3 linked regions of the Homo sapiens genome follow. The protein of the gene in region 1 purifies or fractionates together with the protein of each later gene. This does not show direct contact. Each region holds a gene or a part of one and is shown in the gene's direction. Other genes may lie near its edges.

Region 1 (4,284 bases):
GTGGGAGTTGAGGGAGGGGGAACCAAAGCTATAGTTTTAAAGAAGGTAAATGCAGTGCCCCAGTAGAAATCCAAGTGGAGTCAGCCAGGCACAGTGGCTCATGCCTGTAATCCCAACATTTTGGGAGGCCGATGTGGGAAGATCAGTTGAGCCCAGGAGTTCAGGACTAGCCTGGGCAACATAGCGATACCCTGTCTCTTCAAAAACTAAAATAGTAGCTGGGTGTCACGCCTGTGGGCAGAGCCCAGCCAGGTGCCTGGCATTGTGTGGCAGCTGGACAAGTCAGTGTGGCTTCTCACAGGGAGACACAGGCTTTGGCTGGGCTCACAGCAGCAGGAAGAGGGACAGAGATGGGCAGGGCACTCGCCTTAGAGGGAGAATCAGCCAGGTGAGGGCTGACTGGACACAGGAGGTGAGGGAATGAAGGAGAAGGGGGGGACAGAGAGGAGCAGCCAGGTGGCCCCTACCAATAATATCTCATGATGCTCTGGGTTGACTGGGCTTAGCAGGGTCTGACCTCACTTGGAGTCTGGTGTGGTCAGATGGCAGCTGGGCCTGGAGTCTCTGAAGGTGCAGCTGGGCTGCAGCATCTAAGATGGCTTTGTCGCCATATAGCTGGTGCCTCAGTGCTTCTTTTTTTTTTTTTTTTTTTTTTTGAGACAGTCTCGTTCTGTTGCCCAGGCTGGAGTGCAATGGCAAGATCTCAGCTCACTGTAACCTCCACCTCCCGGGTTCAAGCTATTCTCCTGCCTCAGCCTCCCAAGTAGCCGGGACTACAGGCGCATGCCACCACACCTGGCTAATTTTTGTATTTTTAGTAGAGACGGGGTTTCACCATGTTGGCCAGGCTGGTCTCAAACTCCTGGCCTCAAGTGATCCTCCCACCTTGGCCTCCCAAAGTGCTGAGATTACAGACATGAGCCGCCATGCCCCACCTCTCAGTGCTTCTTTCGTGGCCTCTTCCTTCATGTCATCTCATCTTCCAGGTCCTTTCTTTCCAGCAGGGCCATCAGACTTCCTGCACAGCAACTGGCTTCCAAGGGCACAAAGCTAATGCTGCCAGGTCTTATGCATGGACCCAGAACTGGTACTGTGTTCCTTCGAGTTAACTGAGTCCACGGCCAGGTCAGAGTCAGTGTGGCATGGGGACTGCACAAGGGATGAATCATAGGCAGCACAGTTATAGGGGCCACCAAAGAGTGGGCCACAGTCACCCAGCCAGGAAGTGTGGAGCCAGGTGTGGCCTCAGATCTGTCTGGCTTTATATCCCACACTCCAACTCTTTTTTTTTTTTTTTTTTTTTTTTTTGACAGGGTCTCTCTCTCTGTCACCCAGGCTGGAGTGCATTGGTGTGATCATAGCTCACTGCAGCCTCAACCTCCTGGGTCAAGCAGTCCTCTCACCCCAGCCTCTTGAGTAGCTGGGACCACAGGTGTGCACCACCAAAATCAGCTGATTTTCTTGTAGAGTTGGGGTCTCCTTATGTTGCCCAGGCTAGTCTTGAACTCCTGGGCTCAAGCTATCCTCCTGCCTTAGCCTCCCAAAGTGCTGGGATTACAGGCATGAGCCACCGCGCCCAGCCCACACTCCCAGCTGCTACCAGATACTGACCTTTCCAGGTGTCATTGAGTGTTTGAAGTGAGGATCAGAGCAGGTCATGGTGCAGGAGGCATATTTCAGAATAACCCTGGGGATGGTGATCCTGGTCTTGTAGCCCTAACATCAGGATGGGAAGTGTCACTTGAGCACCTGCTCTATGTCAGACCCTTTACCTCTCTCTTTCTCATCATTCCTGAAACCCGCTCTGGGACTTTGTTTTCCTCCAAACTGGGAGTGCTAACAGCCTCCTCAGGATGCAGGAAGCATGCCGACAGCTCCCAGCAGAGTCTGCTCATGGGTACGCGCTCAGGCATTGCTGGTTCATTTCCTGCCACTCACGAAGCTGGCAAGTGACCTGGGTTCCCTGTTGGACCAGCCTGGGTGGAGTTGAGGGAGGGGGACAAGGCACAGAGCCTGAAACCTCCAGCTGTTCTAAATGTGAGAGCCAGTCTGGCCAGGCTCCATCTTCCACCCCATGCCAGCCTGGGCTGTGTTGAGCCTGTAAACTCACCTCCATGTCTCTTCTCTCTCCAGCAAATGGAAAGGATCCTAAAGAAGGCATCCAAAACCCACAAGCAGAGAGTGGAGGTGAGTCGCCGTGTCCAGTGGGGGAGACTGAGCCATTCAGGGTCCCAGCTGGGCCCAGAGGCTATCAGCTGGCAGAGGGAGCTGTTGGCATGTTGACGAGAAGGGAAGTTTACCTAATAGAAGTGACACTTCCCCAGGGTTATTCAAAGGGGAGCCCAGGGTTCAGGAGTCTGTAAGACCTGGCAGGGTGAGTTTGAGAGGAGGGGGCTCAGGAGAGATAGGATGTGGGAGAGGTGGGGCTGGGCAGTGCCACTTCTCCCCAGTACCCCACTTGGGTCTGCGCTGACACCGGCCTTCTACTCCACCTCCCCAGGACTTCAACAGACACCTGGACACACTCACGGAGCATTACGACATTCCCAAAGTCAGCTGGACGAAGTAGCCGCCTGCCCCCAGTATGGAGCAGCATCGAGGGTTCGCAAAAGGCCACACTGGGGTTGTGTGTGTTTCCTTTGGTATATTCTGGAAACATGGCTACACACACCCTTGCATCTTCTGCTACAGACTGCTTTTCGAAGCTGTGTACCCTCATTCTGGAACTTGATTAAAGTAAGATCGTCCTTGTACTCAGTTTAGGCTTCTTGGCAACATACAGAAGATACACCCTTTTCGTTTGGATGGAAAGTTTCTAAGTTTATCCAGAGGTAAAGCCCATTGTGTGTCTGTGTCATGTAAAAATGTTTTCACCCGAGTTGCATGTAACGCTCTGAGGCCAGCCAGCTGTCTTCTCCTGGATGAGACAGACTCCAGAGGGTAAGGAGCTAGCGCCATGGTGGCCTGCAGTATGCAGAGCCCCGCAGGACCCAGCGTGGGCGCCCTTCCAAGCTTCCTCTAGCTTTGGGCCTATGCTGTCCCCTGCAGGCCCTAGGGAAGCCACTTGCAACTATGCGGCCTTCAGACTTCCTCCTCAGCCACCTGGCCACTGAGACAGCATAGCCTGGGTAACGGAACAGCCACCTAAGGCAAGAATGGAACGGACACACCTTGCTCCTTTCTGAGCCCGTTTCCCAAAACCCCCCTTCCAGGTGCTTCTAATGGGTGTTGCCATAGCAGACGCTGCTAATGCATCACAGCATTCTTTGAAATGGAACCAGACACAGCCTGCCTCTCAATCCTCAGCTGGGGGCTCCTAGCAGCCTCTTGTATTTACTCAGAGTTGACACATCACACAGATCCTGTTTGGCATTCCTACCTTACGGACGTCTCAGGGGTGACAGGACCAGGGCAGAGCCCCGGTACAAACAGACAAGGCTGCAGTCAAATGGGAGGGTCCAGGTGTCCGTGTTGGAGGGCTGGGATCTTGTAGGGCCTGTGCGTCCTGGCTGAGGATCAAACCACATATGTTATTGGGAGAAACGATTTCTGTTGACGTAGATATTGAAAGAATAATGAAGGCAGAAGAGAAAAACGAAGTGTGGAATTTGGGGTTGTCCTGTGTAAATTACACAATAAAGCAAAAGTCAGTTATTGTAAGTCTGAGTGTCTTCTTTTTTTTTTTCCCAGACAGAGTTTCACTCTCTTGCCCAGGCTGGAGTGCAGTGGCATAATCTTGGCTCACTGCAACCTCCACTTCCCAGGTTCAAGTGATTCTCCTGCCTCAGCCTCCCAAGTAGCTGGGACTACAGGCAACCGCGACTACGCCTGGCTAATTTTTGTATTTTTAGTTAGAAACGGGATTTTTCCATATTGGCCAGGCTGATCTCGAACTCCTGACCTCAAGTGATCTGCCGCCTCAGCCTCCCAAAGTGCTGAGTGTCCTCTTATAGGCTGTTTGTCACCAAAATGTCTTTTGGATTTGTGGCACAGAAAAATATTCATACTGGAAAACGGCAACTCAGGTGGAAAAATTTCGATGGCACATCTGTTCCCGCCTATGGTTCACACCTAAGAGAGATGACACACACTCTCATTAGCAGTGGCTTTTGCCAGTGATTCTCCCATGGCCTGGTGGAAAGACAGTTTCAGACCTTTTCCTTCCACAAGCTAGCAGCAGGAGTCTGCATTATGTACTACTGTGGAAACCCTTTATTAGTATAGTGGAAAGGTAGTTATTTCAGCTCTTTCCCTGCATAACAAACGGCTCCAAAAGGCAGTGGC
Region 2 (3,647 bases), on another chromosome or scaffold:
TACAACGCCTCAGAAAGAAAAGAACAGTGAATGTTAGAAATCATGCTTGAAACAAGCGAGAGTTTGATCTCTTTCTTTACCAGTCGTGAAATCAGAACCTTGGCCCTGCTTTTCAGGGACCTGCCTCCGTATCGTTTTAAGTGTAATCTTTAGTTTCAGGCCCAAAGAAAGGTAAAAACCTTACTTTTGGTGGTTACTATACTTGTTGAAACAGAAAACTGAAAAGTATTTAGAACTTTTGAGAAGATGGACTCAGGCAGCTCTAAGCTCTGGTTTGAAGAGCCGCTGGAAAACCTTCTGAACTTTCTTCTCCTCCAAGTGACGTCTGTTGTTTCTTTCAAAACCTAAACACAAAACCTTCACTAGAAAGCTGTCCTTAGCAGATCCCCCATCTCTCCTGCCTCTTTGCAGCATCTTCCAAATTTTTACATCACGTGGTTTTATACCGGTTGTTCTATACTAATTGTTTTATACATGCTGCTTGGCGTTAGTAATATACGGTGTACACCTGGTCCCCTCAACACAGGTAGAGACTGTTCCTTACTTCTTCCCCCTTTTCCTCTCCTGGTACTCACTTCGTCATGTTACGCCACTTAAAATGCCATCATCGCTGCTCTTTCTTTGTCCTCATAGAAATCATGACGGTCTTGAAGCAAACACAGAGCCCATTTTTCTTAACTGAGCTTGTTTTTGTATTTCAGTGTACTCGAGATTGAAGCACCGTAACTTGACGTTTAATAGCCTCATAAAACTGTGATGTTAATTGGCTTTCCACCAATCCACTGTTTTGGAACATCGTGGAAAGTGCTGAATTCTTATTTATTTAGTGAGACTTTTATTGCTACAGGAAGACAACCCATTTTATCTTTACTTTTTCAAATATTAGAGGTAGTATGAGGGAGTGAATACCTTACAGCAAACACTGTACTAATGGAAACATTGCTGTTATCTTCATTACTTACAAATTTTTCAGATTGTTCTAGAATTTTTATTGCTTTTTTTTTAACCTCCAAGTTTGTTATACTTTCCATAATTTATCTAAACTTATCCTGTCCTTTATTTCTATTTCTGTAAACTTCAAAACCGGAGAGTGGTCCTGTCTTGAGGACCTATTTGGTGAAACCATCTATTCCACATCACATTAAAACATTTGCAGAACTTATTCATTAGTACTAGGATACTTTTAAGTGGGCCAGCTTTCTTGTGGCACTGGGGGACTCATGCTGCTTTCTGAATTAGTAATTAACTGTCATGAATTGTACACATGTGCAGGTATCTGAAGCTGTTCTAAGGTAACTCAAATTCTGTAGTCTGTGGCTTGGGAGAGACTTTTCATGCTTTGTTAATAACTAAACCAAGATAAATAGATGTTCTTAGGTGGCGAGCAGCTGAACCTTTTTGACAGTTTTGACTCCTTCCTTGACTGAGTTTGCATATTCTTATTGTGGATCACGCCGACTGGCTCTCAGCTGCGTCCTGTTGCAGTGGCCAGGAGGGACGCTGGTGTCCCTTGAGCATGTGTGGGTGGCTTGCTGTTTGCATGGTGTGGGCTGAAGCCCAGCTCTCGTTTCGTGGTCACTGGCACAAATGATGGTGCTTTACAGTATTTTTCTTTCCTTGCACTCATCTGGCAGTGTGATCTTTGTGTTCATTGTTCTCATCCTCTGTCTCATCACTCTGCAGACATTTCAGTGAGTGCCTGCTGTGTGCCGGGCACCCTTGCAGGGAAGCTTGTTATCATTGCTGTTGTCATTCTGTCTTCAACAGAATATAATCTTGACTCAGGTTTTCTATTTTTATCTGTCCTGCCTTAGCAGCAGGTGGTCCCCAAATTGTGGTTGGGAGCCATTTTGTTCCTCTTCAGAGGATTCACAGATGGGAGGCTGCAGCTCCACACGCCCACCCCAGCGACTGTGGGCAGGGGCCAGCATGGCCAAGAGCTGCCTCCTCATCCTGGTGGTTCCCAGATGGAGAGATAGCCTTTGCCGTCTTCCTGTGGGTAGATTCTCGTGCCCACCTGACAAGGTGCTCCTGCCTCATGGGACCAGCCTGAGTTGGTCCTTTTGCTCATCGGGTGCCACAAAGGGGAACACAACCACACATGGAGACTGCCCATAGGAAGCACAATACTGTCCAGTCCCACGGCTGGTATTTATAGCCAGCAAAGAGCTATTCAGCAGACCCTCTGTCCATTCTCTTCCTGTCCTTCTTTTTTTTTTTTTTTCTTTCCTCTTGATATATAGACTAGGCTGATTTTAGATTCTGCTGGAATAAAGTGGCTGTCAGTCAACATCTGGGGGACGCCGGCATTTCCATCTCGTCTTAAGCTTCCTTGCCAGATGGAAGTCGCTGACACTGAAGATGGCACTAGAAGGGAAGGTGGGAACTTGAGGCTCCTTCTGGTCTGTCTGGAGGTGCTGGTCTCCAAGGAGCGTGGAGGGAGAGTGTGGGAGGAAAGGATTTCACAAGCTTCTGGACTGATCGACTGCCAACTCTCACTTAAGAGTAAAAGGAAAGAAGTGAATGAGTCATTTCAATGGTGGCTGCAGGAGGTGATCAATGTATGTGCATCTATACCAACAAGCTTGTTTGGCCTCCACGAAGGAAAGGACTGAAATTACTTTTAACAATAATACTTCCTTTTCCGTTTGTTTTCCCTTGAAGTCCGAGCTGTAATACCACTCTAGGTTTGAAGATACTTTCAGTGTTCCCAGCAGAGCACAGCCCACAAGCCCAGGAGAAATGAGGACAGAGACAGGAGGAGGCAACTGGGGATAACAAAGTGAAGGCAAAGGAGGGAGAAGCTGCTGCCTCACTTTCCTCTTCCACCAGCAGATTCTAAATTAACCCTTGGCATGGTTGAAGCCCATTTGGTCTTAAGTGAGATGTTCCCATGTGGATAAACAGCAATAAAGTTCATCTCCTTCAAGACCCAAAAGGGCCTTTATTGGAAGGTGTAAAGATTGATTTAAAGCTGGAAACAAAATGTACAGAAACTGTGAGGGAGAAAACGTTTTTGATTCAAAGCATACAGAAACTGTGAGGGGAAAGATGTTTTTCTGACCCCTCATCATTGTGGATGAGGCAAGAGGGAATTCTCTCACTTAGGTGTTAGTTGCAGTGAACAGATCCTGCTCTGACTCAGTTTCAGCAGGAAACAGCTTTTACTAAGAGAGACTGAAAGCTCATGGTTCCCTCAGAATAGATGGAGAACAGGTTTTAGGCTGAAGTTCAGGAGTGATCCCCAGAAAACTGGCCCCAAGCTCAGCGCCCACTTTGCCCCGAGCCAGCCCACCCCTGCCCCACCTGCCCCGCAAAGAGCATGTGCTCTGCCCCCGCCCTGCGCCCACGAAGCCCACGTGTGCTTCCCGGATCCCACTCAGTAGCTGCCGATCCGACTCCTGAGGGCCAGGTGGGGAGTCCCTAATCGCGAGGGAGGTTGGGACATGAAGTGTGTCTGGTGCCTGTATTGGAAAAGTAGGACTCACAATGTCAGGGGCTATTAAAATGTGTAGGAGGTGTGGAAGGATTAGGGGCAGCTACACATTTAGTTGTCCCTATTGGCAAATACAGCACAGAAATTCCTAACAATAGGAGTTAATGGTAAAAGTTTAATTAAAAATGCAGAAATTATTTGTGACTAATTA
Region 3 (3,647 bases), on another chromosome or scaffold:
TTTGGTGAAATATCTATTCACATCATTTGCCTATTTTGTAATTGGGCTGTTTGTCTTCTACTGAGTTGTAAGAGTTATCTGTGTATTCTGGGTACAAGTCTTTTATTATAGATATGATTTCCAGGTATTTCCCCCTGACTGTGACTTGTTTTTTCATTTTCTAAACAGTGCCTTTTGAAGCACAAAAGTTTTAAGTTTTGATGAGATTAAATTTATCATTTTTTATCCTATGTATTGTGCTTTAGTGTCATATCTAAGAACTCTTTATCTTAACCCAAGATTTGAGAAATTTTCTCTTGTAGATCTTCCTTATTATTATTATTATTTTTTTTTTTGAGATGCAGTCTCACCCTGTCACCCAGGCTGGAGTGCAGTGGCATGATCTCAGCTCACTGCAACCTTCGTCTCCCTGGTTCTCCTGGAGGAGGTCAAGCGATTCTCCTGCCTCAGCGTCCCGAGTAGCTGGGATTACAGGTGTTCACCACCACATCTGGCTAATTTTTGTATTTTTAGTAGAGATGGGGTTTCACCACGTTGGCCAGGCTGGTCTCAAACTCCTGACCTCAAGTGATCTGCCCCCTTCAGCCTCCCAAAGTGCTGGCATTACACGCGTGAGCTACCATGCCCAGCCCCTTCCTCATCTTGTTTCTGAAGGAGTTTGTGAAGGATGGATTGGTAATTTTTTTTTTTTTTTTTTTTTTTTTGAGACAGAATCCCACTCTATCGCCCAGGCTAGAGTGTGGTGGCACGATCTCAGCTCACTGCAGCCTCCCTGTCCCAGATTTAAGTGATTCTCCCGCCTCAGCCTCCTGAGTAGCTGGGATTACAGGAGGGTGCTACCACACCCAGCTAATTTTTTTGTATTTTTAGTAGAGACAGAGTTTCACCATGTTGGCCAGACTGGTCTTGAACTCCTGACCTCAGGTGATCCACCAGCCTTGGCCTCCCGAAGTGTTGGGATTACAGGTGTGAGCCACCACACTCAGTTGGTAATATTTCTTTTTACAGTATTTTATAGAAGTGTTGACCTGCAAGGAAGAGGCTAACACACAAAATATGATTTGAAGAGTTTACTTGATTTTTAAAGGCAAAAAAATGTGGACAGGGAGTGGGACTCATACAAAGTTGTTTATCAAGAATTCTCATTGATTTACAGAAATAACATTGGTTAGTGATTGGCTGTACATTAAGCTGTAGGATGTAGGATATAGCGTCAGGTAGGGCATTATTAGGTTAATCCTTACCCACTTGTGGCAATAGCAAGCAGTTTTGATAGATGAATCTTAGCTCAAAAAGGGAGAATAGGAAGTGATTGCTATCTCATTTTAATATCTCTCTGGGCCCTGATCATTTAAAAAAACTTGGATTCTTTAGATAAAAGTTATCTTCTTTTTTTTCAGACAGAGACTCACTCTTCCGCCCAGACTGGAGTGCAGTGGTGTGATCTCGGCTCACTGCAACCTTTGCCTCCCGGGTTCAAGCGATTCTCGTGCCTCAGCCTCTCAGGTAGCTGGGATTACAGGCGCCTGCCAGCACACCCAGCTAATTTTTGTATTTTTCGTAGAGACGGAGTTTCACCATGTTGGTCAGGCTGGTCTCAAACTCCTGACCTCAGGTGATCCGCCTCAGCCTCCCAAAGTGCTGGGATTACAGGGGTGAGCCATCACGCCCAGCCGATAAAAGTTATTTTCTGACCTGCCTGGGCAACGTGGAGAAACCCTGTAAATTTTTGTAAAATTTGTGTTTTTGTAAAAATACAAACATTAGCCAGGTGTGGTGGCTCACATCTGTAATCCCAGCTACTCAGGTGGCTGAGGCACGAGAATCGCTTGAACCCAGGAGGCTAAGGTTGCAGTGAGCCGAGATTGTGCCACTGCACTCCAGTCTAGGCAACACAGTTGAGACTTTGTCTCAAAAAAAAAAAAAAAAAAAAGTTATCACCAGTGAAGCTACCTGGGCCTAAGCTTTTCTTTCTTCCTTTCCTTTTTTTTTTTTTAAATTCTCTATTTATTTATTTAGAGACAGGGTCTCTGTTGCCCAGGCTAGAGTGCAGTGGCACAATCATAGCTCACTGCAGCCTCAGACTCCTTCAAACTCAAAGCTAGGACTGCAAGGGCATACCACCATGCCCAGCTAATTTTTGTGTTTTTTTAAATAGAGGGTCTTGCTCTGTTGCCCAGGCTGGTCTGAAACTCCTGGCCTCTAGTGATCCTCCTGCCTCAGCCTCCCAAAGGGTTAGGATTATAGGCAAGCATGCGCCATGGCACCCAGCTGGCTTCGGCTTTTCTTTGTGGAAAGGTATTTGATTATTCATTTTCTTTACTTGTTTTAAGTGTACACAGAATATTTTGTTTCTCCTTGTGTCACTTTTTTTTTTTTTTTTTTTTTTTTTTTTTTTTGAGACGGGGTCTTGCCAGGCTGGAGTGCAGTAATGATCACTGCAGCCTTCGCCTCCCAGGTTCAAGCAATTCTCCTGCCCCAGCCTCCCGAGTAGCTGGGATTACAGGCATGTGTCACCATGCCCGGCTAACTTTTTTGTATTTTTAGTAGAGACGGGGTTTCACTGTGTTGGCCAGGCTGGTCTTGAACTCCTCGAACTCTAAAGTGATCTGTCCGCCTCTGCTTTCCCAAAGCACTGGGATTACAGATGTGAGGTCCCTGATTATTTTCTTGGTTAGTCTAGCTAAGAATTTGTCATTTTCTTGATCTTTTCTAGTTTCTAAGGTAAGATCTTATGTTGCTGATTTGAGTGATTTGAGATCCTTCTTTTCTGATGTAGATGTTTAAAATTATAAATTTCTCTCTTAAGCACTTGTGACGTTTTATATATATATATATATATATATATTTCCCTCCATAGTTCCTGGCTCACAGCTTCTATAACCCTTGTACTTTCCTCAGTGACTAAAGCAGTAAGAGTATCTTCTGTTAAAATATTTGGCCTTTTGTCCTTGCTTCCTGAAACACCTCTGGAACTGCTCCAGAGCAAGAAAGGTGAAAAACAGACTTTTGTTATTTATAACAAGCCCCTTTCTTTTTTTTTTTTTTTTTTTTTTTTTTTTATGAGATGGAGTCTCGCTCTGTTGCCCAGGCTGGAGTGCAGTGGTGCGATCTCGGCTCACTGCAAGCTCCGCCTCCCAGGTTCATGCCATTCTCCTGCCCCAGCCTCCCAAGTAGCTGGGACTATAGGCGCCCACCACCACACCTGGCTAATTTTTTGTATTTTTAGTAGAGACGGGGTTTCACCATGTTAGCCAGGCTGATCTCGATTTCCTGACCTCGTAATCTGCCCTCCTCGGCCTCCCAAAGTGCTGGGATTACAGGCGTGAGCCACCGCACCCGGCCATATAACAAGCCCCTTTCAGCCACACCTTGGTACATGTTAATAGGGTGATTTTTGAGAAGTCCCTAGATTACCACATTCTGGTTGGCTGGTTGCCATAGGAACCAACCATGTGCTCAGAGGCTTGGAAGTTACAGCCCCCCATCTTGAGAGGGTAGAAAGGAGCTGAAGGTTGAATTGATCACCGATAGCCAGTGATTTAATCAACCATGCCTATGTAATGAAGCCTTCATAACAACCCAAAGACCTCAGTTTAGGGGCTTCCAGGAAGGTGAACAAGAACACATTCATGTGCTGGAAGTGT

The links.
Region 2: the proteins of FAM32A (region 1) and DUSP22 purify together in Homo sapiens (co-immunoprecipitation; one large-scale study listed by IntAct). This does not show direct contact.
Region 3: the proteins of FAM32A (region 1) and ZNF346 purify together in Homo sapiens (co-immunoprecipitation; one large-scale study listed by IntAct). This does not show direct contact.

Annotation. Positions count from the first base shown.
Region 1 is NC_000019.10:16,188,387-16,192,670, forward strand, and holds the end of FAM32A (protein FAM32A), read left to right. Parts: intron 1-2,133; coding exon 2,134-2,187; intron 2,188-2,500; coding exon 2,501-2,569; 3' UTR 2,570-3,660; downstream 3,661-4,284. UniProt on the Homo sapiens protein: Isoform 1, but not isoform 2 or isoform 3, may induce G2 arrest and apoptosis. May also increase cell sensitivity to apoptotic stimuli.
Region 2 is NC_000006.12:330,436-334,082, forward strand, and holds part of DUSP22 (dual specificity protein phosphatase 22), read left to right. Parts: intron 1-3,647. UniProt on the Homo sapiens protein: Dual specificity phosphatase; can dephosphorylate both phosphotyrosine and phosphoserine or phosphothreonine residues. Activates the JNK signaling pathway.
Region 3 is NC_000005.10:177,025,674-177,029,320, forward strand, and holds part of ZNF346 (zinc finger protein 346), read left to right. Parts: intron 1-3,647.